4 linked regions of the Homo sapiens genome follow. The protein of the gene in region 4 interacts with the protein of the main gene of each other region in a pairwise test. Each region holds a gene or a part of one and is shown on either strand. Other genes may lie near its edges. The genes, in order: MAPK1IP1L, NAF1, CAMK2B and RBFOX2.

Evidence for each region.
Region 1: the proteins of RBFOX2 (region 4) and MAPK1IP1L interact in binary tests that used the Homo sapiens proteins (3 or more experiments, as listed by UniProt).
Region 2: the proteins of RBFOX2 (region 4) and NAF1 interact in binary tests that used the Homo sapiens proteins (3 or more experiments, as listed by UniProt).
Region 3: the proteins of RBFOX2 (region 4) and CAMK2B interact in binary tests that used the Homo sapiens proteins (3 or more experiments, as listed by UniProt).

Annotation. Positions count from the first base shown.
Region 1 is NC_000014.9:55,046,982-55,054,665, forward strand, and holds the start of MAPK1IP1L (MAPK-interacting and spindle-stabilizing protein-like), read left to right. Parts: upstream 1-4,665; 5' UTR 4,666-4,822; intron 4,823-7,684.
Region 2 is NC_000004.12:163,156,885-163,163,909, forward strand, and holds part of NAF1 (H/ACA ribonucleoprotein complex non-core subunit NAF1), read right to left. Parts: intron 1,444-7,025; exon of another isoform or gene 1,341-1,443; intron 1-1,340. UniProt on the Homo sapiens protein: RNA-binding protein required for the maturation of box H/ACA snoRNPs complex and ribosome biogenesis.
Region 3 is NC_000007.14:44,217,588-44,224,612, reverse strand, and holds part of CAMK2B (calcium/calmodulin-dependent protein kinase type II subunit beta), read left to right. Parts: intron 1-3,711; coding exon 3,712-3,787; coding exon of another isoform or gene 3,788-3,791; intron 3,792-3,902; coding exon 3,903-3,997; intron 3,998-4,318; coding exon 4,319-4,551; 3' UTR 4,552-4,553; intron 4,554-5,090; 3' UTR 5,091-7,025. UniProt on the Homo sapiens protein: Calcium/calmodulin-dependent protein kinase that functions autonomously after Ca(2+)/calmodulin-binding and autophosphorylation, and is involved in dendritic spine and synapse formation, neuronal plasticity and regulation of sarcoplasmic reticulum Ca(2+) transport in skeletal muscle.
Region 4 is NC_000022.11:35,808,814-35,815,838, forward strand, and holds part of RBFOX2 (RNA binding protein fox-1 homolog 2), read right to left. Parts: intron 1,192-7,025; coding exon 967-1,191; intron 1-966. UniProt on the Homo sapiens protein: RNA-binding protein that regulates alternative splicing events by binding to 5'-UGCAUGU-3' elements. Prevents binding of U2AF2 to the 3'-splice site.

The sequences.
Region 1 (7,684 bases), on a different chromosome or scaffold from region 4:
GAGTAAATTTTGAGAGGAACAATGTGGGAATGTATAAATTTGTCTAAAATTTTATAACTGTTGAACAAAGGGAAGATTTGAACAGTGTAAATTCCAGAGTTGAGAAAGCATTTAGCATGGTGGAAATGTGGAGAGCTTATTGGTGAGAGAGGATGGAGCTAAGAGAAATAAGATCAAATATTAAAATTAGGAATTTAGGCATTACCTCAGGGAAAAGCCTTGACAGTGAAAAGAAACTACTTAATCGCTAATAGCTAGTCTGGACCAGACACTTAACTGCGCTTTGGGAATCATCCTGGGCTAATCAGGAAATAAACTTGACTTTTCTATTTTTCTCTGAAGCTTTACAGGACATACTCCCACTCCCATTTTTTTCTAAGCCTACAGCATCTTGATTCATAGTATAATTCCTGAAGTATGCTGAATGGACTTTTTAAGGTTCCTTTAGCATTTTTGTATAGAGTTATATGTGATCTTTCTATAACCATGCCATTCACTTAAATAATTCATGAAGGGAATGGTTTAATTTAAAGGAAGACCTAATAGGAAGAAGATTAAAGGAAGCTTTTAGTCAGCCTGTGGCTAGATTTATTGATTTGGTGATCAAACCTGTGCTATTTCCTGAATTTCAGCTAATGGCCAACTGTGGTCAAAGAATGGCTTTCAGTTAAAGTTTTGACTTCTTATTATAAATAATATAAAGAATGTCTCAGTAATTAGAAATCCCTTAATAAGTAGAACAAATGTGGCAAGTAGGACTCCTATCGGTATACAAATTCCATTTCTTTTTATAAGAAAAACACATAAACCATTATCATTTATTCATGAGCCAAAGCCATTAAGAAGATAAATCCAGTTATCAGCTTCCTGTCTCTGAAGTTTGGATCATTTTATAGATCCACGCAATAGAGAGCTTCCTTCCTATGAAACAAAAACCTTGAGATCTCTTTTTTTTTGAGACAGAGTCTCGCTGTTGTCAGCCCAGGCTGGAGTGCAATGGCGCAATCTCGGTTCACTGCAACCTCTGCCTTCCAGGTTCCAGCAATTCTCCTACCTCAGCTCCCAAGTAGCTGAGATGACAGGCGTGTGCCACCACGCCCAGCTAATTTTTGTATTTTTAGTAGCGATGGTGTTTCACTACATTGGCCAGGCTGGTCTCGAACTCCTGACCTCAGGTGACCACCCGCCTCAGCCTCCCAAAGTGCTGGGATTACAGGCATGAGCCACTGTGCCCGGCCAAGATCTAACTCACGCTTACTTTTCATTAAAATATTTCTTGTCGCTTTTAGCTATTGTCAGAATCCAATAAACAGCTTACGCATTCATTTTGGTAAAGCAAATTTCACAGGAAAATAGACAAAATTATAAGAGATTCCTGGAGACAACACAAGGAAAACAATGTTTAAAAGCAAAATAGCCTGTGTAATGTTAGGTAATGTAATGCCCAAGTGAATAAAAGATTTTTCGTCAAGCAAACTACTGTTTCTACTTTGGGGGAAAAAAGTCAGTTTTACATTTGTAATTTAAGGAAAGAACAGAAAGCACAAAGGTTTTTCTTTTCTTTATTAATGGCCTACTAGAAATGAGCAGTGCAAGAGTCTACCTGTACTATTCTAATACAGTAAGATATTGGACACAAAATGGAGGTAACTTTTTAAAATAGATTGGCTTGGAAGTTGAAATGTAGATTAATGGATATAACCCAATAGAAAGGGATTTTCAAATAAAACCAAAGTCTATTTTTTTATTTACTTTCTAATTTTGAACAGATGACTCAGTCCTAAATCTTTGCCTTTATTTCCTATAAAATGTAGGTGATACTTGTAACTCGACTTCCTGGAGTTAATTCTTCAGCAAGAGGTGACCCTGGGAGCGTACTTTAAAATAATTGCTGTACAGCCATTGAGTACTAACATGATGATAGGTTTTCAAAATATCTTTGTAGTGGATGCTGCATAATTACATTCACTTCTCTTAGACTGTAAAAGACTTTCTTGACTTGTTTTAACAGTAGAGATAGCAGTACAATTTGAATTTATGGTTTAGGCTCTGCAATTAGAGGAACAATTGCAGTTTCCTCCTACCCTTCATATGGTCTGTGTAAAACTGATGTTTGCTTAACTTATTTTAAAAGTTGATTACGTTTTCAGAAAATAAAGATAATCACTTTTGCCATGGTTATAATCAAATCTAAGCTTTCAGACTTGAGAGCCATGGTGTAAAACTCAAGGAGGTTTATTTAAATTATGCTGACTTTGCTAGAATTGGATAAATTCTGTATAAGCCAAGTATGAGTTCACATGTACTCGAATATACAGTTTTCACAAAGCTATTACTCTCATCAGTCAGGCTTGTATGATCTATTCCTTACCACAAAAGAAGTAGACAATTGCCACTTTTATTTCTAATCCTTAAGTTGAATGTTTCTTCTTGGATGTAAGTTCAAATAAATTGATCTGGATAAATTTTCATTTCTACTTAATTAAAACTTCCTATGTAAAATCCAAAGGCTTTGTGTTTTATTTTAAAAACATAGTCTTTACTTCACACATTCAACTTAGAATCTGAAAAAGATAGAGAAACCCATATTCTTACATATTTTCTAATTTATAATACACTCCTTTTAGTTTTTTTGTGTTTGGGACTTCCAGAAGCAGGTGCCAAAATGTGATTAGAGGTGCAAGAGATTTATTTGGAGTGAAACACCTAGAAAGATAGAGAAGGGAGCAGAAGGTGGGGAATTCTTCATACCACACAGAAAGTCTGACACCTAGAAGGAAGGATTGGGTAGGGGAGCTTCGGACTTCAGTGCATCTTGAGACTGCTAGATGAGGACTTGGTTCCCAAGCAAAGGTTGCCTGTAGAGAAGCCCACAGGGACAGGAATGGCCTAGATCTAGACCCCTCCAACGTGCTCAGCTACTGGCTGATTGCAGGCAAGGAAAAGTTGGAGGCTATCCATTACTGGTACACAGCGCCAGGACTAGGGTATGGTGAGGCACTTAGGGACAAATATTTGACTATACGACTAAGGAAGACAATGTTTTGGTACAATATTGTAATATCTGAATTGATGCAAAAAAGCCTATGATGAGCAAGATACCAAATTTCAAATCAAACCTGACCAGATTACTGATTTCTTGTTGCTTCAGGTTTCAGCATGGCTCAAGGCACTGCTGATTCACTGTCACCAGTGAGAACAGGCTAGGTCCACACCAGTCGTGTAATTTTCCATAGGCCTGTGTGCCCTTACCCAAAAATAAGACTCTCGGCTTAGGTATTTGAAGTTCCTCTGTTGCCCCTTTTTCAGTGTGAGAATTGTGTGTGCTGTGGAAAACATCCAGGGATGTCTTCCTTTAAACAAGTTCATGGTTAAATGGCCACCCACTCACTCACTAATGCCTTACACAAAGCAAGATGCAAGTGTACCACATACTTTTAGGATATTTTTATATCTTAAAAAATGTATATTGGCCGGGCACAGTGGCTCACGCCTGTAATCCCAGCACTTTGCCGAGGAGGGCGGATCACAAGATCAAGAGATCGAGACCATCCTGGCCAACGTGGTGAAACCTCGTCTCTAAATACAAAAATTAGCTGGGCAAGGTAGCGCGCGCCTGTAGTTCCGGCTACTTGGGAGGCTGAGGCAGGAGAATCGCTTGAACCCGGGAGGCGGAGGTTGCAGTGAGCCGAGATCGCACCGCGCCACTGCACTCCAGCCTGGCGACAGAGCAAGACTCCGTCTCAAAAAAAAAAAAAAAGTATATTGCATATATGTATATATTTTGCACACCATATAATTATCACGACATCTTTATTGCTAGTTAGTAGGTTCCTTGACTGGGGTCATGTCATCTGTGCCTGACACAGGAGGTAATGTTTATTCAGAAATGAAGATGGCGGCTGGGCACGGTGGCTCACACCTGTAATACCAGCTCTTTGGGAGGCCGAAGCGGGCAGATCGCTTGAGGCTAGCAGGGTGAGACCCCATCTCTATCAAAAACACAAAAATAAGCCGGATGTGGTGGCACATGCCTGCAGTCTCAGCTACTCGGAGGCTAAGATGGGAGGATTGCTTGAGACCAGCAGGCAGAGGTTGCAGTGAGCCGAGATCGCGCCACTGCACTCCAGCGTGTGTGACAGAGGCCCTGTCTCAAAAACAACAAAAAAGAACATGGGAGAAGAGGCATTGATGAGGAAAAATCTACAAAGAAAGCAAATATCAATTTGTCAAGCTATTTGCAAACGTCTTCCCTTTCCTGTATTAATATTTTCCCTCTCCCCACTTTTGGCCCGAGGATCTGAGTCCTCGGGTCAGGCCGAAATCAGACCGCGTCCATACCCAGCCTCCTTCGAGGCCTAGCTGTAAAAACCGCTGAGCAAAAGGAATCCAGAATCAGCCCTCAAGCAACTCAAGACAAGTTAGCAATTTCCGCCGGGAAGCCGTGAACATCGGCAGCCACTGGCGTTTCCTCCGAGTCCTCGGAACTCCGGAAACTCTGGGAGCTTTTAGCCCGCCCACCAGGGGAAAGCGGCCCGGAGCCGGCGCCAGGTGGAGCCCATCCCCCTAGGCCTGGCGGGCCGCAGTACCGCCAGGGGCCTGCGGGAGGCGCACGCGGCGCGGCCTGAGGGGAGGGGGAGAACGGGCGGAGGCGGTGCGCTCGGCGCTTCCTGTTCCGGCGCCAGGAGGAGCCGCGCGCTGCTGGTGCTGTTGCCGCCGCTGCTCTAGCTGCCGTCAGTCAGGCTGCGCCCGCGTCTTCAGGGCCCAGTCCCTCGGACCCATCGCCGCTTCTAGACCCTACTGCGGTCTCGGATATTGCCGGGTGAGGCTGCTTCGGTACTAGTGGGAGTCGTGAAGGGGAATCGGGGAGCTGGGGTTGCGGAGCCCGCGGGCGCGGCCAAGCGGGAAGCGGGCGCGGTGACCGAGGTGCATCGAGTCACGTCCAGTGCTCGGGCCGTGGTCGCCTGCCTGGCACCAGGACTAAGCGTTTCTATCGGTCGCCTTCCTCCACGCTGCGGGCTGCCTGGGGATCGCCCCCCAGGGAGAAGGTGTCGGAGGCCGCTGACGTCGCGCCCGACGGGTTTCTGGGCGCCTGACGTCAGGTCTGGCTGCGGGGCGGGGCGGGCGCGGGCCGGCCCCTCCCCCACCCCTTCCCGGCGGGCGCGACCCGCTAGGAGGCCGGTTCGCTCCGGTTGATCCCGGACTCCCTTTGTTCGTGCGTCCCTAAACGGCTGCCGGCCTCGCGCCCCTTGGCCCCGATTTCCCCTCTACCCCCACCCTATTACACTCATTCATTAATTTTTAATAAAAAGGGAAAGGCCTGAAAAGATTCTTACAAGAGTCTCGGGCGCTTGTTAATCCGCAGTGTGACAACGTTCTGGTTATGACTTACTAGAGGAATTGCTCACGGATACATTAGATGAATACCCAGGGCAAACCACGAGAAGGGCAGAATTCAGTGATCTCCTTTTTTAGGACTGAGGAGCACATACCTGCGATAGCGTATGCATAGCTGGACCGTTTTCCTCTTTACCTTGAAAAGCAAGAGTACAGCTTTTAATAGGTAAAGATTCCAGTGTTAAAGCATGAAGCCAGGCTCACTCGACCGCAAGAATTTTTTTTAGTTTTACTACTAGAGAAATACACACCTGGGGGTTGTAAAGGTCTGTTTCGAAAAGGAACCCTCATTACAGGCAAAGGTAGCCTTCAGAAACATTTCATAAGTTCTTTGTTCACTGGTGTTCTTTGGGGGAAGAATAGAAATTTTTCATGCTGGCATCTCTGAGCCCACAATGCAAAGCGAGTTTGCTTCAGAAACTTGGAGTGAATTGCAAATATTGGAATGTTCTTTTCCTCACTCCAGGCGGAATGGGTAAAATCCATCCCCAGTCTCTTAACTGAAACTTTTGAAGCTAGTGTGTTTTGAATTCAAAAATACTTGGATTTTATCTTCATCTTTTTAGAAAGTCATGTTAGACGAGAGATAACACCCCCAGCAGAGTGGGGCACCCCATAATCCAACATTAATATTTGCAGCAATAGATGTGAACATTCATTCTAAGTGGGGGCGAATAGAAACTATAAATAGCTTCAGGTCACATTTTGCCACCATGTAAGTTTTGTGCCAAACTAGGGCAGATAAAGATTTATGGACCTAAAAGTAGGCATCATAAAAGCTAATATTTGTTGAGGTTTTGCTATATTCCAGGCAGCGACTAAGAGATTTGTTTATTAAAAGTTTTACAGCAAATCTATGATGTGGGTACGATTCCGATCTTCCTTTGCCTCAAGTTTGGAGAGTTGGACTTGTCAACTCTGGCCGAACCAACCAGTGAAGAGCTGCAGTTATAGCTAGATAATCATACTTTAACGTTTACTTTTTTACCTATAAGCTAGATGTCCACATACAAAGAAAAGAGAATTTGGTATTTGTTTTCCACCCAAGCACTATTTTTTTAGGCACTTGATTGGACAGAGTCCCATTTAGTTCCTCGCAACATTACTGGCCTGGTTTTTATTTGTTTTGTTTTTTAAACTGCGTGCTTTTTACAAATAGTATGGCCTGTTCTTTATAGTTCGGGTTCATTCAGATGAGCCGACTTTTAGTGAAATAATTCAAACCCTCGTCTAAGGTCACTCTGCTAAGACTTTAATACAACCCTTCCCTTTCTCGCTATATTCTAACCCATCTGAACTGCTTATACCTCCCCAGAGATTCTCCCAGTTTTTACACTAACTGCTCTTCTTTCCCTAGGGCCCATTTCACCGCCCTCTACTCCCGGCTCTTTCCTTATGGTCCTTATGGACTGCAAAAGACAGCACATCTCAGGAATCTCCATGTAATACTATAATTTCTCTAAAGGCCAACACATTGTTTGGCATATATGTTCCAATAAGTATATAACTAAATGCCAAGAAATATTGCAGGTTGCATATCCTTTATCCCAAATGCTTGGGACCAGAAGTGTTTCAGATTTTGGATTTTTTTTACATTACACCAGTTGAGCATCCAAAATCCAGAATGCTCTAATGAGCATTTCCTTTGAGCGGCATGGTGGCACTCAAAAAGATTCAGATTTTTGAGCATTTCAAAACCCCCGTTTTTGAGTTGCCCAAATGTAAAAAATGGAACATAAGCAGATAAATGAGCCAATACTAAAAACTAGCATGTATTCTAATTTATAATTTATATTTTCTTTTTTTTTTTTTTTTTTGGAGACGGAGTCGCTTACTGTAAGCTCCGCCTCCCAGGTTCCAGCGATTCTCCTGCCTCAGCCTATCGAAGCGAAGTAGCTGGGATTACAGGTGCCTTCCACCACGCCCAGCTAATTTTCTGTATTTTTAGTTGAGATAGGGTTTTACCATTGGCCAGGCTGGTCTTGAATTCCTGGCCTCAAGTAATCCACCCACCTCGGCCTCCCAAAGTGCTGCGATTACAGGCTTGAGCCGCCGCACCCGGCCATTAATTTATATTTTCAGTACGATACATATCATCCCCCCATACTAAACAAATCAACCCAAAAATTTTGATTTCGCTTAATTTCGCCTAACAAATATCTAACATGTATATAGCACTTTATAGATTAAGTGTGTTACTATTTTCTGTGCAGTGGGCAGGAATTATAACTTCTACAGATGGAAAATGGTCTCTTATTGAGAAGTTTTTTGTCAAAAGATAACCGTC
Region 2 (7,025 bases), on a different chromosome or scaffold from region 4:
AAATAACTATTTTATCATACAAATGAAATTTTTGTAAATGTTTACTAACAAAAAATCAAAGAACAGCAAAAAGTTTTTCTGGACTCATTTATTCAATACTTCTACACATAACAAAGAGTAGGAAAGGAAAGGAAGAAAACTATTTCATTCACATCATTAGCAAATGAAAAGCTTGCATGGAAATAAACATCCCCAAACACCACAGCATTTCGCAAATGAACTACTAAAATTCAACATACTAAAGAAGCTCCACCATTTATTTCCCACACACTACACAGTTCCAAGTCAAAAGCTTTATTGAGAGGCAATATAATCCAAGCAAATACAATTTTAAAAAGCTTACATTAGATGATACATTCATCCTTCACTTTGAGAAAATATGCTACATGATTATTCAGAAACCAAATAATGAGAAAGTCCAAACGACCAGATTCCAACGTTGCTATGCAGGTCTCCACAAATACTAAAAACACAGCAGTTTGGAATGTATCTATTACCAGTTCAGATCTGCTCCTCCCCACTAATATGACTTCAGACAAGTCTCTTTCTTTCTGGTTTCATTTTTCTTACCTACGAATAGTAAGGAAACTGAGCACAAGTTCTAAACAGTTACACAAATGGCTAACGACAATTTAAATGTCCAACTGCATGTAATCAAAAAGACAACACATTAATACAGAAATTATATACTAGATCCCAATAAAAAAATTACTGTGCTTCTGTGATAACAGATACTCGTAACGATGGCATTAAAGAAATGCAAGATCCTAACCACACTTCTGGAATATCCATGAAAGAGCAATTATTGTCTGTTTTGTAAGATTATTATATTTTAATTTTCTAACATCTGTATGGTCTACAAGGTTATTCAGTTAAGCAAAATATTCAAAAGAGTACCACATAACATTAAAAATCCATCCTATTAAAAATGAGGTTATAGACATACCAGTCAAAAAATGGGTGCCTAAAACTTTCAATGCAAAAATGGAAGAAGCTAATATGTCAAAAGTGGCCCTCTGAAAAGGTAACATTTATAATTTACAACACTGTTGACTTTTCAAGCATTTGTGAAGGCTTATTGAGCAAAAAAGAGTATCAGTAAATTGATGACTTTCTAAAGTAAAATTATATAAAGAACTTTCAGTAGGATTTTCACTCACAAATATGGAAAAAGGACAACAGAGGTTGGTGGGAGAAGGAATCAAACATTCCAAATGAAAACTAAACCTTTTTGGTGTCAGTTTGGGGAGAATTGAGAAAAGTGAGGAAGGTGGGATGAAATTATCTAACCACTTTTCTCATATTACCCAACACAGGACATGCACGTGGCAGCCAATTACCTGATGCTATTAGGTGAGCCTTCACTTTTCAGATATGGTTGGAAAGTAGGATCCAATCCCTGGAGTACTGAGAGCCATGACTGAATTTTTTTTTTCTCTATAGCTGGTAAAACATATTGGAAAAAGAATGGATTAGGTCTGTACACTTTGTGTCAACTATGACCATACTTAACATGTATTCTAATTCATTAACTTCTTCAGGGGAAGTAATTTTACAAGTTTCCATGAAACTCAGCTATTTATCACCAGTAAGCATTAGTCCCCTCATTAATTACCCTATTGTGTATGACACTAAACTTAAGACTCAGACAAGTCAATTAAAAAATGAGGGTCAACATTTCTTTGAAGTGTCTTGATATTTTTCTTTTTTAAATGAATACATTATTATCCTGTTTTTCTCTAAAATTACTGTTAAGAGAAACAAAGTTCATAATACTTTCAAAATTTAATTTGCTTAAATATAAAACTATAGTCCATCTCAATAAGAAACCTCCAACAATGAATATAACTTTAAGCCTATCTTTCATGTTAATTGAGTGCATATTTCATCAACTTTAAGACACTGATTTTATATCACTAAGATAAAAAGACTGCCAAATAATTGTAAAATGCCACAGAGTATTAGCCTAAATTTTTCAGAAATCCTTATTACCTCCCCTTCCACTCAATCCTATCACTTCTTATGTGCAGTACACCATTCATCTGACATTCAACCATTAACTCTCTGGTGCTACTTTGCTTTCAGCTAAAGTGTATATGCTCATTCTCTAGTTCCATTGCTCTTTAACAGATATTTGTCTTTATCTTCTAAAGCAATCAGCAGAATTCACTTATTAGAAACTACTGAGGAATGGGGGAATCTAAACAATTGAATGTTTCTGTGTAATAATAATTATATATGTATATACACAGGACATAAATGGATACTCTACTGAATAAAACAGTATTTATTTCATGTTTATGAAATCATTCATGCCTCATGTAAGCTTTATTGAAATATTCTGTAAGATATAAAACTTTAATTTAAAAAACCCTGAGTATTAATTATTTTTGAAGAACACTAGTGAATATTAATGAAAAATGATCTTAAGTATACAAACCATTGCTTAAATAACAAGCACTTTGGGAAGAATGTTAATAAGTGCTATCAAAGTGTATTCTAAAATAGAATTTAATAGTTCCAAATATACATATAGTAATAAAAACCTAAGTTAAAAGAGGCCTGCATTCAGGACAAAATTTATAAACCAACTTATGCCTAGAAAACAATATATTCAATTGATAATTACTAAGTGTAGACCAAGATGCAATACAATTTCATATATGATGGGAGATCAAACAGGCATGAAATATTCTACTGCAACTTCCAACCACTTGAGTGGTCCAGATATTTCCATACATTCACGTTAGGACATTTTAGAATGTGTCCACACTGCCACAATCAGGAGAATAGAGTGTACTCAACCTAACTACCAAACGTACTTATTTTATAAAATAAGCAGTCACCAAAGTATGACAGCTAAATTTCCCCCAAAATTGCCAATAAGCATTAATTTTTTTCTTGGTCATGCTACATTATATGCCTAAAGACACATTATTATCCCTACTGAAGTATTATCCATTTCTTATCTCCATAAACATTGTGCTAATAATTTTTAAATGTTATGTGAAGCCTTTCAGGTTTTCAGAAAACAATGGGCACTAATTTATAAAACTCATTTCTGATTAAGACTTTAAAAATTATAATCCCAAATATTTTTATGACCCTACATTTTTAATTACACTTGATACATTTGAATGAAGAGTTCAGAGCATCAACTGCTGATAAAATTGTTTAAAAAGAATCTCAATTTTCCAATTCATCAAAACACTAAATACATCCTATGTGGCTCAACGTAGTTCCAAAGCTGTAATATGTATGCTGCTTACAGTGACTGTGTAGGTTATATATAAACCTTCTGAGCATTAAAAAAGAATTTATGTTTAAAAGAATAATTTTATCTAGTTAAACTTATTAATTGTGACATTATGAAGAGAGCCACTTAAGACTCTCCTTTTTCATTGCCACTATAGCTCGCTAATTCCTCTTTTATTCTCTTCCCCCTTAACGTACCCTCACATTAAAAAACAAAAACAAAAACAAAAACAAAAAACTGGGTTATAACCACATCTTGGGATGGCAAGATTTGGTTATAACCTAATTTTAAAAATTATATCTTTCTAAGGTTTAAGAACAATCATAAAGTTATTTCACTGTAGTTCTCATCTACCTAAAGATCTGCATTGTACATAGTTAGATCGCAGAGATCGAACAACCCACAATGGAAAGATTTAAAGGGATAGATCCAGAGAGGCGACATTCCTGCTTGAAGCACAGACTAAATGGAGGTAAAAATTAAGCTAAGCATGCCTGAGTGACAATAGGAAACTGCTAGAAAACTCTTTAGAAAGTGGTTGGACATAAAATTGGGTTAAACTGGGCTAAATTGGGCATGTCTATGTCCAGATCCCTGAAGGTCCAGCACAAATTCTAAAATTGGTTTTAACTGTTTGGCACACTTTAATTTGTGTATATCTTTTGGCAGAAAAGTTCATTAATTTTCTTCAGAATTTCATTAGATAGTTAATAGACCACATAGAGCTTGAAGCTCCATCTAGCTAAGATACACAACCTCTGCTGCCTAAAAGTCTAAGTGACATATCAAGAGGCCTGAACAAAATGGCACATACCACACAAGCTAGGAATAGTTGTGGAGAGGAGATGCTTCCCAGAAAGAATGGACTGTCATTTTCCAAAAAAAAAAAAAAAAAAAAAATCTAAGCTAAATAACAGAATTGTCCCAAAAGCAAGCAAGGAAATACAACACTAATTAGCCAGTTCATGGGACACTGAAAGCAAAAGATGCCATTTTTAGAGCCAGAGATACTGAAATCCATGTATAAGCTAGAATTAAAAAGATCAATCTGTCCAGGCACGGTGGCTCACGCCTGTAATCCCAGCACTTTGGGAGGCCGAGGCAGGTGGATCACCTGAGGTAAGAAGTTTGAGACAAGCCTGGCCAACATGGCAAAACCCTGTCTCTACTAAAAATAAAAAAATTAGCAAGGCGTGGTGGTGGGCGCTTGTAATTCCAGTTACTTGGGAGGCTGAGGCAGAAGAATAGCTTGAGCCCAGGAGGTGGAGGTTACAGTGAGTCGAGATCGGCCACTGGGCTCCGGCCTGGGCGACAAGAGCGAAACTCTGTCCCCCCTCACCAAAAAAAAAAACCAAAAAACAAATCTATAGATAAACAGAGGAAGCCAACCAATAATGAAAGAATAAAATGCCAGAGAACTGTGAGACTATCCAGAGGCATGTAAAAGAAACAGTGTGACTAGCCTTCACAGCTGCCTTAGTTCCCAGCTGCTTTCGAATAAACTTCCATTTCTCCTGAGGTAATATGAGTCTCTGCTCCTCCTAACAATGAGTCCAACATAAGTCGTACATGATATCACTTCCAAGTATTTCCCTTTCCCTCTAGTGAGTATAATCCGTTGTTACTGTCTGCCCAGCATCCCCTTTTGGAATGGATATAAGCTCCCTTTCCTGTGAAAGATAAACCATTCCATGTGGTTTATATAGGGCTGATATTACACCCAACATCCCACCCTCCTCACAATACATACACATTCACACTCCCTTTCTGTCAACTGGCTGTTACGCACTCCCACCCTCTCGCACTAGCCCATGTGCTCTTTCAAGTGTTCATTTTCCTACACATGCTCTCCTCACTCTCTCCTACACACTCGCCTACACAAACAGGAGTGACTATGTGACTCACAGCCAAGCAATCTGAATACCCATTCCACTAGCCTCAATGATCTGTTCAAGGCTGTGTTAACAGACCATAAGCCAGCAAAAGTCAACTCCAAGACTTTCATGCAAGAGTCTATCAGTGGTAAAACTGCCAGCCCTGAGAAACGGACAAAGAGGCAGACTCCTAAACACACTACATACCTGTAACTATACACTATCCTTAGTACTCAGGACAAAGTCATTCTTTTCCCCCAAACTTAAGATTTGAAACCCCGAAGAAGTCCTTATATCTTCTTTCAGACCTGTAAGCCAGAGATTTAGGGCAGACTGGGAAACTCATCAATTCCTCTACCTATCTCTAGCAGCACAGTGGTCTGAAGGACTTCTAATAAGTTTCCCAAATAAAGACTATAATTGCCTCTTCCATCATTCCCAAAGATCCATTGAAATGGTCACAGAGAGGAACAGACCAACCCATCATTCCAAGTTTGAAAATCTAATAACATTCAAATGGAATTTTGTCTTTCGAGGCAAACATACACTTACACAATTCAATAGCATTTTTAGCAATTAAATTTATTTGTCTCCACTTTATTTACTGTCTGTGTCTCTCCATTAGACACTATGAGAGCAGAAACTGGACTGGTCTTGTTTACAGCACCTGGCAAATGGCAGGTGTGCTATAATAATTTCTTAAAGAATTAATAAATATAAAATGCCTATTCACACACTCATTCTATAATCATGTATTACTTTGGCCTGAGAACCCATTATCTATAAAGCACTCCACTGGGGACTATGGGAATTACAAGGATCACATATGAACTCAGTCCTCAAAGAACTTGTTCTTGGACTCCTTGTGGCCACAAATCCTTTTTGATCTTCTGATGAAAACAGGGACATTCTGTTCAGAAAAATACCTAAACAAATATGCTAAGACTTTGCATTAAATTGGAAGAAATTCCCAAGGTAAGAATTGCAAATCTAGTAAGACAATGATATGTATGCATTTACAGAAGTACTGTGGTCTTTTCTTTGTTCGTTATTATATTCTAATAAGGAAATTATGTAGAAAAATGATCAAGAGACAAGCAAGAAAGACCAAACAAGTCTCCTACTTTCAGAAAATAGTTATGCTGGGAGCCTTTGTGTACAAAGACCACTAAGAAATATTAACATATCTGTAGCATGAAAATATGAGCCACTGATGAAGCTGCATACAAATCCAAAGGTCTTCAAGTTATAAAGCATAAGCGAGACGAGAATTTCTTGTTATGAGTAGAGAAAAAGAGAAATAATTCAGACTGGCAGAATCCATTCATGAAAAAGGCTCCTGAGTGCCTGTAGGCTTTAATTTATTTTTTCAAATCTTGCATTAAACTATCTCATCAATTTAAGTGTTATATAAGAATTATGATTAGTGACCATTAAATATTTTTAAAGCATTAATAATTAAAACTACATGCAGGGGTAGAAAAAAAACAATGTGATAATATGGCCTACATTCTGAAATTCTGAGAAGGCTTTCCTCTTGGGTCATAGGTTTCAATCAGACTAACATCATCCTCCTAAGGATGTTTACAGCATAAGAGGAAATAACCTTGCAAGAGTTAACTTTGCAAACCAAACCTATCGAGTGCCAATAAATACCATTCTACAATTAACAAGTTTTCTCCAACTGTAATAATAAAAACACTCCAAAAACTTCAATAGGAATCCTAACAAGTTCAACCCTCTGAATTTCATCTTCTACTTCTCTAAATGCAGTCAATTAAAAAGTCAATTGCTATTGAGCAAAATTTTCTGACGTGCAGACCAAAAAAATTGATTTCAATTGCTATTGAAATTTCAATTGCTATTGAGCAAAATTTTCTGACGTGCAGACCAAA
Region 3 (7,025 bases), on a different chromosome or scaffold from region 4:
CCCACCTGGACGCATTAGGCCTGCCTGGACCTGTTGCCTCACCCCAAGAGAGCCACAGGCAATGCAAAGGCTCCTGTTCATGTCAGGGCACCTGGAAGGCCTGACTTGCAGAGGCTCTTGGCTCGTGCAGACCCCTCCAAGCCCAGGCCCTGCCCACCACCTCCCCTTTGTCTCTGGAACTGCCAGGACAGCTTGTCCTCAGCCAGCAGGTTTCCCGACCCGGGCACCTCTTCATGTTGGGCCCCCCTCCTTTCCCTCCATCAGGGATCATGCCCTTCTTCAGGGGCCTGGATATCAAGGACACAAAAGCTCCCATGTGCTATGTGGGGAGGCAGAGTGGGGGCTGGGTTGAGCTGGGGTCTGGGCAGCGCCATTCCGCAGGGCAGGGGCAGCCTAGGCTTCCCATCTGTGGAATGGGTGGGTGGGTCTCACAACGGACCTGCTTCCCGTACTTCAGCACGGTTACCACTCTTGATTGGAACTCTGACCATGCATCTCCTCTTCTGTTTACTTCACGCTTTCTCTTCCCATCAACTCCCATTTTAATTACAATTTGTTTAAAAGCACTGCATATTACTTCATTAAACAGAAGATTAGTTTCACTTACCATTAGTGTAAGGTGACTATAGAACCAAAGCAGACTGGAAACCAAATGACATAATGTCATTCTCTTCTCCATTCCAGCTGCCTGCTGCTGTGCGCCTGAGAACCCCTGTGGAGTGGGAGGGGCAGCTGTCTCTGTACATTAGAAAGGGAGGTTAACTAAGTGACAGGAGGTGTTTGGGACATGTGGACACCAGACTTCTCTCTTGATGCAAGGAGGGCAGAGCCAGGCAGCCTAGTGGGGGCTGGCTTGGGGGCTGCTGGAAGGACTGGCTACAGGTGGAAGAGAGGTCAGACCTGAAGCTTGGGGCCACCTCCAGGAAAGGACAGGTGAAAGTGGAGGCATGAGGCAGGGGAGAGGCAGGTGCCAGGCAGAGGGTGGAGAGGAGGCAGGAACATAGCAGCTGGGGCGGGGGCGGGCCTCAAGTGTCATATGCTACTTTCCTGGGGCCCAGGGGCAAGGACAGGAACAGCCACAGCATGTGTTGGGACAGAGCCCTGTGCCTTCCTAGAGCTGGGCAGGTGGAATGGGGCAGGAATGGGACTCGTGGTGGCTGCAGCAGGAACTGGAGGGGAAGGGGCTTCTGGATCCTGCAGCCTACCTTCCTAGAGGCCAGCTTTCCGGGGTCCACCAGGTGGGTGGGAACTGGGCTTGTGTAGCAAGACTGCCCTGAGGACCATCCATGACATGGTCTAGATGAAAGTTAGGAAAGAAAGGGAGACAAGCTGGCAGCAGAAGTACAGCTGGGTCAGGAGCAAGGGCCTTTCCAGATAGGGACAACCCAAGAGTGCACATGTGCCCACGCCACACAACACAGGCACACACGACACGTGCACGCTCATAGGCACTGCACACACACATGCACAGGTGCTCATGCATATGTATGAGCTTCATCTACACACATTCACATGCCGTCCTGCTTATGTGCATGTTTCCATACATGCACATGAATGCACAATCACGTGTACACACATGCATGTGATCACATACATGAACATGTGTGCACCCCACTCCTCAGGTGCCATCGGGCTCCTCCTGCTGTCACTGTGCAGCAGGGGACATGAGGCCCCAGAGCAGACAGGTGCAGCACAGGCGTTCCCAGGCAGTGCCCCACACACATGCATGAGCACACCCGGGCATGTGGCGCCTCCTTTGTGGACTCAGTCACCTGCCAGGTGGGCTCCCTGGTGGTGTGAGCTCCCAGAGGTCTGGCGAGAGAGATAAAGGCAACCCCACCACCAGGCGTGCTGAGAATTCCCTCTTCTGGCTGGGCACAGTGGCTCATACCTGTAATCCCAGCACTTTGGGAGGCCGAGGTGGGCAGATCACTTGAGGTTAGGAGTTTGAGACCAGCCTGGCCAATATGGTGAAACCTCATCTCCACTAAAAATATACACACACAAAAATTAGCTGGGTGTGGTGGTGTGCACCTGTAGTTCCAGCTACTCGGGAGGCTGAGGCAGGAGAATCGCTTGAACCTGGGAGTCAGAGACTGCAGTGAGCCGAGATCATGTCACTGCACTCCAGCCCGGGTGACAGAGTGAGACTCCATCTAAAAAAAAAAAAGAATTCCCTCCTCTGGGAATTTAGACCACAGACAGGTTGCATGTATGTGGCCGTTGGAGGCAGCACTCACAGCAAAGAGTGGAAACGTCACCACAGGGCCTGCCTTCTGGTGAAAATGGTGTCCTGCAGGGCGGGCAGCTGTTTGAGGGCAGGTGTCCCAGGTGCGGCCTGCAGCAGCCTGAGGGTCACAGAGCGCAGTGCTGGGAGTGCAGAGACTTCCCCCACAGGGAGAGTTCCCAGGAACCTGCTTCCGGTGCACTTCTGGGGGTTTGAGTTTTTTCCACGGACGAATTACTTTGAGAAACCACTGTTACTCGTGTGTATAGGTGAGCGTGCGTGTGCATGTGTGTTCTGTGTGTGAGTGTGCATGTATGTGCGTGCCTGCGTATATATCCTCGCAGATACGGCTAGGGACCTCACTCAGGACAGTAGTTCTGCCTGAGGAGAGTGAATGCGGCAAGATTGAGGAGAACACAGGCATCTTCAAACTACATGTGCGGTGCTTTATTTCTTTAAAAATGCGTCTAAAGCAAATAGGAAAATGTTAAGATTTGAATCCGTAGAGTGTGGGTTCTATTATTCTCTCCACATCTTCCATACGTTTAAAATCTTTTGCAATGAAAATAAGCTGTAGTTAAAGCAGCAATGCAGGCTGCCAGTGAGCGCCCCGGAGGCCAGTGAGGACCAGCATGGCTGGGTGGCCTGTTGGAATCCAAGGGGGGCGGGCAGGAGCTGCAGGCAGGCGCCCGGGAGTAGCCCGGGCATGGGGGTGCGGGGCAACAGGGATGTCTGCAGGGGTAGCATGTGGGCCCCGGACTGCAAGCAGGTGGAGCCAGCCGGATGCGGCTCCTATGAGAAAAGCGGGGAACAAGAGACCACGCTCGTTCTTCCTGCTGCGGGGACAGCCCTGGTCATCGCTCCGGGGAACCCTGCAGCCTGCGCCGCACGTGGCCGCCCCCTGCTGCTTCCTCCTCCCCGGCCTCCGGGTGGCCTTGCTGACGGCTCCTTCTCTGAGGCAGGTCTCTGCCTTCTCGCCTGGTGCCTGCACTCAGTAGCCCCCTCACCAGAGCTGCTGGGTGAAGGAAGCACTAAGAACCCAAGGCTCGGGAGGAGAGTGGGGCCGGGAAGCTGCAGGGAAGCGCAGGGCCAGGCCTGGTGGGCCCAGGGGCTGGCTCACGGGAGGGCAGGAGGGAGACTGTGGCGGACAGCACGTGGGGCCAGGAGGTGACCTCCAAGTGGATTGTGGGTGGGTTTTTTGTCCTCTTTCTGCATTTTCCAGGCATTTTGTAATGTGGATAGAATATTTCTGTTCTTCAAAAATACTTTAGTTAAGAAAAATAAGATGGAAGCTGTTGCACTTGAAAATGAGGAAGCCACTGGTGATGCAGGGGGGGCGGCGGAGAGGACCTCTTCTGCAAATAGCGGCAGGAACACGGCATGGATGCAGCTCGCGCTCCCCCAGGCCCTCCCCTGGGCTGTGTGGAGGGGTCCGGGGGGAATGGGCCAGCGCCCAGTGGTCACCTGGCCATGTCTCCCCACAGCCCGGAAGCAGGAGATCATTAAGACCACGGAGCAGCTCATCGAGGCCGTCAACAACGGTGACTTTGAGGCCTACGCGTGAGTCCCTGGGGCTGGGGGGGGGCTGTGCAGGACAAGGATGTGGGACCCTTGGGGGGGCCTGCTCAGAGTCAGGGGTCCACGGGGCCCCTCCTCACTTGGATTTGGCCCCCAGGAAAATCTGTGACCCAGGGCTGACCTCGTTTGAGCCTGAAGCACTGGGCAACCTGGTTGAAGGGATGGACTTCCACAGATTCTACTTCGAGAACCGTGAGTGAGGAAGCCCGGGTGGGCATGAGGGGGCGGTGCCCCCAGGAGAGCCTCTCGGCCCCTCCCAGGGACAGCATGGTGGCTGCCTATGGAAGCCCTGTCCCCTCTGTGCCCAGGGTTGGCCAGCCACCTCTCCCCCGCCAGAGGCCATACCCAGCCCCCAGAATCCCACTCTTGGAGGGGCCCATGCTGCTCCCAGGAGAGCCGAGCCTCCCCAATAAGGGGAGTTGAGAGAGGGAAAGGATTAGGCTGGTGGGGTGGAAGACGGGCACCAGGGCAGTCATGGTAACCCGAGACCCCCGCCCCGCCTGCTGTCCACAGTGCTGGCCAAGAACAGCAAGCCGATCCACACGACCATCCTGAACCCACACGTGCACGTCATTGGAGAGGATGCCGCCTGCATCGCTTACATCCGGCTCACGCAGTACATTGACGGGCAGGGCCGGCCCCGCACCAGCCAGTCTGAGGAGACCCGCGTGTGGCACCGCCGCGACGGCAAGTGGCAGAACGTGCACTTCCACTGCTCGGGCGCGCCTGTGGCCCCGCTGCAGTGAAGGTGAGTGTTCTGTGCTAAGTGACAGCTGGGGCAGAGGGGTGGCGGTGGTGTGAGTGGCTGCAGCCTGGGGAGGCGATGGGGAGCGGTGGGGCCTGTGCAGAGCCATGCCTGGGAAGTCCCTGAGCTTTCCTGGTGAGGCCACAGGAATGATGTCAAATTAGGGACCACGGCAGGCTGGGTGTGGCAGGCCTCCCCAGAGGACTGGGGAGCTGGTGAGGGCCTGAGCAGTCCACACTGGCCAGAGCTGGGTGGGTTGCAGGTGGATGGGCCCCGGGCAGCACAGTCCTGGGCACCATGCCCTGTTTGTGAGGACTGTTAGAGCCCCAGATGGGCGTTCCCCAGGTGGTGGGTGCAGCGGGCCCAGAGCCCAGTTTTACAGGGATAGTAGTAATTGGGTTGGGCACCTTGAACCTCTCTCCCGAGTGGGCCCTTTTCTGGACTTTAACCCTCTCTGCAGTGCCGCATGGCAGACAGCAGAGCCTGGGGGTGGATGGGAGAGGGGGCTGCTGAGGAGCTGACCCACCCGCCCCATTTCAGAGCTGCGCCCTGGTTTCGCCGGACAGAGTTGGTGTTTGGAGCCCGACTGCCCTCGGGCACACGGCCTGCCTGTCGCATGTTTGTGTCTGCCTCGTTCCCTCCCCTGGTGCCTGTGTCTGCAGAAAAACAAGACCAGATGTGATTTGTTAAAAAAAAACAAAAAAAAAAAAAAAAAAAACAAGATGACGACGACAACCACAAAAAAAATTGACATCAGATGAAATGAAAAAAAAAAAAAACAAAAAAAACTAAAGGAAGGAAAAAGCTGTAAAAATCACTGGCATTCGTGGGGCCACTCCCCACCCAAGCTCCACGTGTGTCCGTCTGTGCTCCTGGCCTCTGGGGGACCAGCTGGGACATGAACTTGTCTGCCAGGCCCCCGTCGCGTGCTGAACGGTGTTAGTTTGTAGGTAACGCACACACCCCACACCTAAGGTGTCTGCATCCTCCTGCCAACGCATGGGCTCCACGTGGTGTGCTCGCTGGCTGTCGTGACTGTCAGCTGTCTCTTGGGAGGGGCTGTGGGGGCCCGCTGGGCTGCCTCCTTTCCCGCTAGTTGTGCCTGAGAGTTGCTGTTGTTCCTGCTTTCCCTTCCCTTCCTTTCATCCCCTGAAGGGCTAGGTGTGGGTTTTCCGTGCCCGGTATCCCCACACACCCAGCACGGACAACCCTTCGGCAGAGCCCAGGCCGGCCCCTCACCCCCTGGAGTATTGAAACTGGAGTCCCGTCCCCAAGGCCTTCAGAGATGCCCCTACACACCCAGGGCTCCAGCTCTGGTCCTTCTGGGGGAGTAAAGTGCAAAGAGGGGCACAGCTTAGTTTTGGGCCTCTCGCCGAGCAAGAGACAGCACTGCTGGCTACAGCTCCAACACAGCCAGCTGTGGCAAGAGGACTCTGCCTGGGCTGGCCCCCCTCCTGTGTGAGGTGTCTGTCCCTTCTCTGCTGGCCAGCAGCAGATGCACTGGCAGCTCCCAACCCTGTTTCCGCCCCTCGGCCCTCCCCCAGCCTGTTCGGCTTCTCTGCAGCCCGCAAGGGGGAGCAGACTTTTGACAAAGGACTGCGGGCCTCGCTCAAGTCCCTGAGCCCCCAGCTGAAGCTGGGAGGGGAGGCCAGGCTTTGTGTCTGGGCATATTCGTCTGCTGATGGGGTTTGGGGAAGCCTGGGGCTTGGGGTTTGGTCGGGTGGTGCAGCTAGTGGCAGAGCGGGATCAGAGGTGGTGGCTGCCCAGCTTCTGGGCTGAGACAAGGGTCTGTGCAGGGGTTTACTGAAGTGGGAGTGCCTTTGGAATCTGGGCCGGGAGCAGAAGGGAGCAAAAGCTACAGTGGGAGCCAGCCTAGGGCACATGGGAGGCGTGAGGGCAGTGCTGCCCGTGCAGTGTCAGGTGTGCCAGTGCCTTGGCGGGCTGCAGTGCGTGTGAGGGCACCTTCTAGGTGGGCCAGGGATGCAGCTATGGAGATAAGGCGGGCTGGGGACAGAAACAGGTGGGCACAGGGCCCAGGACACCAGCGGATGGAGGGCAGGGTCTAGCCCTGTGCTCCTGAGCGTCGGCTGCCTGGGTTCGAGGCGGTGGGTCCCCGGCCCCTTGTGATGGTGTGTACCATGGGGGAGCTCGGGGACAGGGCAAGCCCGAGCATGGTGGGGCTGCAGGGTGGGTCTGAAGCCAGGTTGGGTGGGGGTGGTCACAAGCCCTGACTGCAGAGGGTCAGGGGCTCCTGCCCCAGTGCCTGCCCACTTTCAATTCACATTGTTTTCAACAAGGATTTTCTTTATCTTCCCCTACAAATCAAGCCAAGGGAGGGGCACAGAATGGGGAACAGGACACAGGATCCTAAACTCCAAGGGGACTGTCCACCGATGAACACTCAGAGTGGACACCATCTTCCGTCCACGCTGTGCCCAGGACAGCTGTCCCCATCCATGAACACAGGGTAAACAT
Region 4 (7,025 bases):
CTGCACTCCAGCCTGGACAACAAAGCAAGAGACAATACAATTTCCCATATGTTGGTATGTATGAGATATATACCTATTATTAATTTATGACATTTCCTTTACTTTAGCAAGTTAGTAGTAAGAGGTGAAGTCAAAGAGGTAAGCTGGGGCTAGAGACTAGTAAACCAAGTACGGAGTTCAGATTATATTCTAATTGCATTAGGGAACTATTAAGAGTTAAGTAGGAAATCGGCATTTGCATTAAAAAAAAAAAAAAACCACCTTAGTCCTATGTGGAGGATAGATAAGTTAGGCAACAGTAATACCGGAAATAAGTGATGAGGTTTGGACTAGAGCAGTGATGATGATAAATTCTTTTAAATTTCCTAACAGCCTCTTCAGGTAGGTACTATTATCTTCATTTTAGAGTGAGCCAAGGGCAGAGAGATTAAATAACTGGTCCAAGGTCACACAGTTTAGTAGGGGCCATATTGAGATTCAAACACAAGCAATTTGGTGGAAGAGTAATAAGATGTAGAGAAGAAGACGAAGTAGTTTTAGAGTTATGGTTGTCAAGACTTGCTAATCAATTAGATGTACAGATGAAAGAAAGAAAGAAAGAATATTCCTAGGTTTTGCTTGAGTTTGGTAGTATAATTATGCAGAGAAAGGATATAAAATAAAAAGAAAAGGGGTTCCAGGACCTACATATGGAGTACTGCACCATTTAAAAGTTGAACAGAGAAGGAGGCAGGAGCAGAACACCCAGTGCTTGGCAGGAAAATTGGGAGAGCTCGAAAAGCCAAGAGACTAAGTATTTCTAGGAGGAGGGAGGACAATGTATACAATGCTGTTGAGAGAAGGTGTAAATGAGAACAGGTGTAAATGCTAAATTAATTCCGAGAGTCTTCTAATTGTATAATTAAGGCGACAATTTCTATATGATTGCCATGCATCCTTCCATTTTTCACCTCATGGTCCACGTACCGTAAGAGATCCATTTTGTGTGCTGGGTGAGTTGCTGCTCTGCTCCCCGTGGGCTTGCGTACTTCCGTAGAGTGTCAGGTTATGCTCACCGGTCTGGCCGGCATAGTCTTGAGTGTGTGGCACCCCATACTCTGTGGGAATTCCATTCTGCGGAGGTGGTGGAAATGGGATGGTAGTAAAAGGCTGAACCATTGCGTCAGGAGTTGTTGTCGGCTCCTGGTTACCCTAAAACAAACAACAAGAGAAAGAAAAAGTGACTTTGAATCCTTGTTACGTAACTATTTTTAAAGTGAGTATATGGAATTCTCTGAATATTCTCTCACTGCATAGGTAAAATGGAATGCTTATTGCTCCAGGATTGGAGAAAATATTATTACACATACACACATAGATATATGTATGTGGACAGACACACACACACACACACACACACACACACACACACTCACTTTTGTTAATGTGTAGTTACTAGACAGGCCCACAACCATATTTAAGTGGACTAGATGCCAAAGGGGCAAAAATCTTTCCTTTAAATTAAAAGTAGGTGGAGAGCCCACTTTGGACCACAAGCCACTACAGCCTATACCACAGAGAGAGACTCTGTCCCTAAAAAATACGAAAAACAAAAAAGAAAAATCAACTAGGAGAAAATATTAGCAAAAGGTAAGAGAGATGCTGGGTTATTATCACTAGTCCCAGAGTGGGTTAACCAAGTTGACAAGACAGACACACATGTACACACAAACACACACACATCCCAAGAGAAAAACAGGCAAACTGTGTATCTGAACAATTCATTGAAAATGAAATACAAACAACTAATAAAAATGCTCAACCTCACTAACTGTCACGAAAATTCACATTAACATCAAAGTAAGTCCAAGTCTTTAGTCATCAAATCAGCAAAAAAATTAAGCAGTTTTATTATGATATAACTGTCATATGATAAACAGCACTTATTTATTTACAGTATACAATTTGGTAAGTTTTGATATATGCACTTATATTCTCATGAAATCATCACCACAATCAAGATAGTCAACACATATATCCAAAACCCCCAAAAGTTTCCTTGTGCCCCAATAATAAACATATATTACTTTTGTAATAAAACCTATACAAATATATTGTTTTTAATACTAAAGAGAATGACAAAAAATATATCATCAATAAGGGGAAGCCAATATTCTGAAACACTGAATTACTGTGTTACTCTTAAGAGAATGGTAGTGACCTACCTTGAAACAAAAATTCATAACTCTCTTCCATTTAAAAGTTAAACAACTTCAAAATTCAGCTGTCTCCAATGTCCAAGAATCATTTCTACTTGGTAATAAAAACTGCTTTACACAATAGTGGTGAAAGAAAAAAGGCAGAGAATTGGGGGTGGGGGGCTGCCACAGTCTAGATAAAAAGTGATGAACTGATTACAGTTATCAGTGGGAAGGGGCAGAGTCATAGACTGAGTTGTGCTCAGTCTCCAACCCGTATGTTGAAGTTCTAACCCTCAGTACCTCAAAATGTCACTGTTTTTAAAGATAAGGTCTTTAAAAAGGTAATTAAAGTGATGTCATGAGGGTGGGCCTTAATCCAATTGGAGTGGTGTCCTTATAAGAAAAGGGAATGTGGATACAGACACATACAGAGGGAGGCCCATGTGAAGACACAGAGCATGACCATCTACAAGCCAACAAAAAAGACATCAGAAGAAACCAACCCTGCTGACACCCTGATCTTGCACTTCTAGCCTCCAGAATGGTAAGAAAATACATTGCTATATTGTTATGTAATACTTTCTTATGGCAGCCCTTGCAAACTGGTAAAGGCAGGAATGAAGATTCTGTAACAGAAATTAATAATAAAAATAAAAATAAATTGCTTTACATAAAAATTTTCCTGCTATTGGACATAATGGTTCATGCCCTTGTAATCCCAGCACTTTGGGAGGCTGAGATGGGAGGACTGCCTGCGGCTAGGAGTTCAAGATCAGCCTGGCCAACACAAAGAGACCCTGTCTCTAGAAAAACTTTAAAAAATTAGCTGGGCATGGTGGTATGTGTAGTCCCAGCTACTTGTGAGGCTGAGAAAGGAGGACTGCTTGAGCCCAGGAGCTGGAGGCTGCAGTGAGCCATGATTGCATCACCCTAGCCTGGGCAACAGAAAGACCACGTCTCTTAAGGGAAAAAAAAAAAAAAAAAAGGCTGGGTGTGGTGGCTCACTTCTGTAATCCCAGCACCTTGTGAGGCTGAGGCGGGCAGATCACTTGAGGTCAGGAGTTCAATACCAGCCTGGCCAACATGGTGAAACTCCATCCCTATTAAAAATACAAAAATTAGCCAAGCATGGTGCCAAATGCCTTTAATCTCAGATATCTTGGAAGCTGAGGCAGGAGAATCGCTTGAACTCAGGAGGAGGACATTGCAGTGAACTGACATCGCTGCCATTAAACTCTAGCCCGGGCAACAGAGTGAGTGAGACTCCATCTCAAAAGATAGAAAAAAAAAAAAACCCCTCTCTTTAGTTCTTAGAAAATATGTTATGAAAACTTTAAATTTTTTTGGAAAAAGTCTATCTTCGTCACCCATCACCATATAACTTCTTTACGTTATTTCTAGGTTAGGATAGTTTTTATGATGTCTTTATAGCTATTCTGGGCATCTGACGAGAGATATAAAATAGTTATCTCCCTTCCCCTTCAAATTATTCAATGCTCTATCTCTCTGTCTCTCTCTAGCCATATGAAACATACTGCTTCAGAAGCCCTCGCTGAATCTACTGGCCTGAAGACAGACATGAAAAAGAATTGAATTGGAATTCAGGTGGACTGGTGAATGAAACACAATAAGAGCACCAAAGGTCTTATGCCCACATCAGGCATAAATATAATCTCACAGGAATCCATAAGAAAGTTCTACTAAATAATTGGTAAAAGCTAAAAGATAGAGTTTTCAAGTTAGGATTAACAAGGCCAAGGCGACTTTCTCCTGCTCTGACACTGCTCCTTTCAGCCTCCTCGTTTTACTCCAGCCTCCATTCTCCACCCCAGCCTGCTGGGAATGAGACTCTGGCACACAAGTACACAGTATGAATTCTCTCACAGCGTTATTCTCAACAGGGCTGACTCAGATAACTGAATAAACACATCAATTAGCAGTGGGAGATGGGGAGAAAGGTAAAAACATTTCCTGCAATCCACTTGTAGCCTAGGCACTAGGCGTTTTACAGAAATGCAAGCCAGGCAGAGGCTCTGTTTTCCTAGAGGGGTTATGTACCTCCCTTAAGAGGTCAAGAAGAAATTCTTAGTGGATTATTTTGTTACTTACAGAAATTTCTTTTAAAATTTTTGTTAAAAATGTAACAACAATTGTTTATATATTAAGGGAATGAAATTGGGATAGGAGTGATTTAACATTTTCTCTCATATAGCATGCAATGTCTGAATATTTCCCCAAGTATACATTATTAAAAATGTCAAATGGTTTCAGATTTGTATTAAATTTCCAGGCCATATTCCAAAGTTCTATGCTCAGAAGAGAAGTACAACAGCCTTCAGCAAACTATGAGATAACAGTTCACATGAGTATTTCTAGGTATGAATTTACCTCTATACTTATATAAAAATGTTTTGTTTCTATTACCAGAGGCTAAGCTGCTTAAGTATATCTCATCTGAGAAAAGAAATTACTAGCTTTCTCTTTAGTCCACAAGGCTAGACAGAATAGCTCTTTTCCCTAACCTAGCAATTTATAAACTTTCTTCTGTTTCCAGTTAAAAGTAATTCCTTCCTTTCCTATATTCTTATAACATTTAGCTTGCATCCCCTATAAGACATTGAAATCTAAAGCCTCATACTTAGCAAACGTAAATATGTATTTTAACTCCCCTATTAGATTAAAAGGCTCATTATGATGGGTGGAGACAGTCCTGTACAATGTAGAATCCCACATCGTACATAATAAATATGAAGTGTTAAACATTTATGAAATAGAGGAAGACTGAGATAGAAAGTCAGGTGTGTGCACATTACAGCAAACTGCTTTGTTGGGCTAGAGAGCATAACAAGGGATAACACAGAGTGAAACAAGTGTTGGTATCTTGGGTTGATATCAAACTGGAGTGCAGGGATGGGAAAGTAGAAGTGGGGAAGCATTAGGAAAGCAAAGAATCAACATTTACATGCTTGTGCTTTATGCACTTAATTTCCTTCTGTCTTACAAACACAGGCTTTAAGAGTTGTTGACCAGCTGTGAGTGAAAATCAAATGTAACTATTAATTTCTGAGTTGAGAATGATGTCTTTCTCTTTTAAACCACAGATAGTAACAGAGGCGATACATATTATATACAGCCTTTTGGTGTACAATGTGAAATATGCTAAATGTTTTCATTCTGAATTCAAACATACAGTTGTCCCTTCATATCTGCAGGTAATTGGTTCCAGGAACCTCCCAGCCCCCGCCCACCACAGATGCCAAAATCCTTGGATACTCAAGCCCTTTATATAAAATGGCATAGTATTTGCATATAACCTACTTACACACATCCTCTTGTGTACTTTAAATCATCTCTATATTACTTATAATACCTAGTACAATGTAAATGTTATGTAAATAGTTGTTATGCTGTAGTGTTTAGAAAATAATGACAAGGCCCTGCATGGTGGCTCATGCCTGTAATTCCAGATCTTTGGGAGGCTGAGGAGGGAGGATCACTTGAGCCCAGGAGTTTGAGACCAACCTAGGCAACATAGTGGGATCCTGTCTCCACAAAAAATTTTTAAAAATTAGCTGGGCATGGTAGCATGTGCCTGTAGTCCCAGTTGCTCAGGAGGCTGAGACAAGAGGATCACTTGAGCTTGGGAGATAGAGGCTGTGGCGAGCTATGATTATGGCACTGCATTCCAGCCTGGGCGACAGAGTGGAACCCTGTCTCAAAAAAAAAAAAAAAAAAAAAAAAAAGAAAAGAAAAGAAAAAAGTGTCAAGAAAAAAGAGTCTGGTCAGGCCAGTGGCTCACAGCTGTAATCCTAATGCTTTGGGAGGCCAAGGAGGGAGGATCTCTTGAGCTCAGGAGTTTGAGACCAACCTGGGCAATGGGAGACCCTGTCTCCTAAAAAGAAACAATGTCTGTACATGTTTAGTACAGACACAGTCATCCAATTTCCCACCCTAATTTTTCAATCCGCAGCTACTTGAATCCACAGATGCAGAACCCGTGGCTATGGACAGACAACTATAGTATTACAGTCGTCAAACAGGAACCCATTCAACAGTCTATTGCCTTACCCACAGCAATCTCAGAGGTTCAATCATCACCTACCGACAGGTGACTTTCAGTGTTTTTTCTAGGTCCAACCATGTGCCTTCTCCCCAGTTTACATGGAATGTAGTAAAACAGAAGAAAGCATGAACCTAAAAGTCAGACTTGAGTTTAAATTCCAATTATACCACTTACCAGATGGGTTGTTTACTTCAGAGGTGGGTGTGAAAATTAATTGAGAGAGCAGGTGAAACTGTTTTGTTACTGATTCTTTAGCATATTTTCTGTTCCTACTGAATTATTCTGAATATTATTTAAAACCTATGCACAGTACTGTAAGAGAACACAGAAATGACCCAAAATATAATTGTCTTCATATTTCTAGGATAACTAAAGTCTATGTAATCTTTGAGAGAGAAGGGTGTATTTTTGTTTATATCTTCTCATTTATTCCTCAACTTCATTCTAATTTTCTCAGTTTGGTCACCTTGAGTCCCACTTATATACATAAACTGCTATTGTATTGCTTCTAATCAACAGGCTGCAAATCCTAAAAGCTTCTCAATTCCCATACCACATATATGGTCAGAATGGATCATGCACACAAACAGATCAATATTAATTTTATTCACACCATCATAAAAGAATCACTTCATTATTTTGGTAGAGCATATTCTCACCAGTTTATTACCACTGACAATGTCACTAATAGTTTTTCTAGTGCTATTTATAAATGGAAATTAATTTTCTAGGATTATAATACAAATAAAATGTTTTTACTTTTAAGTATTTTTACAAATTAT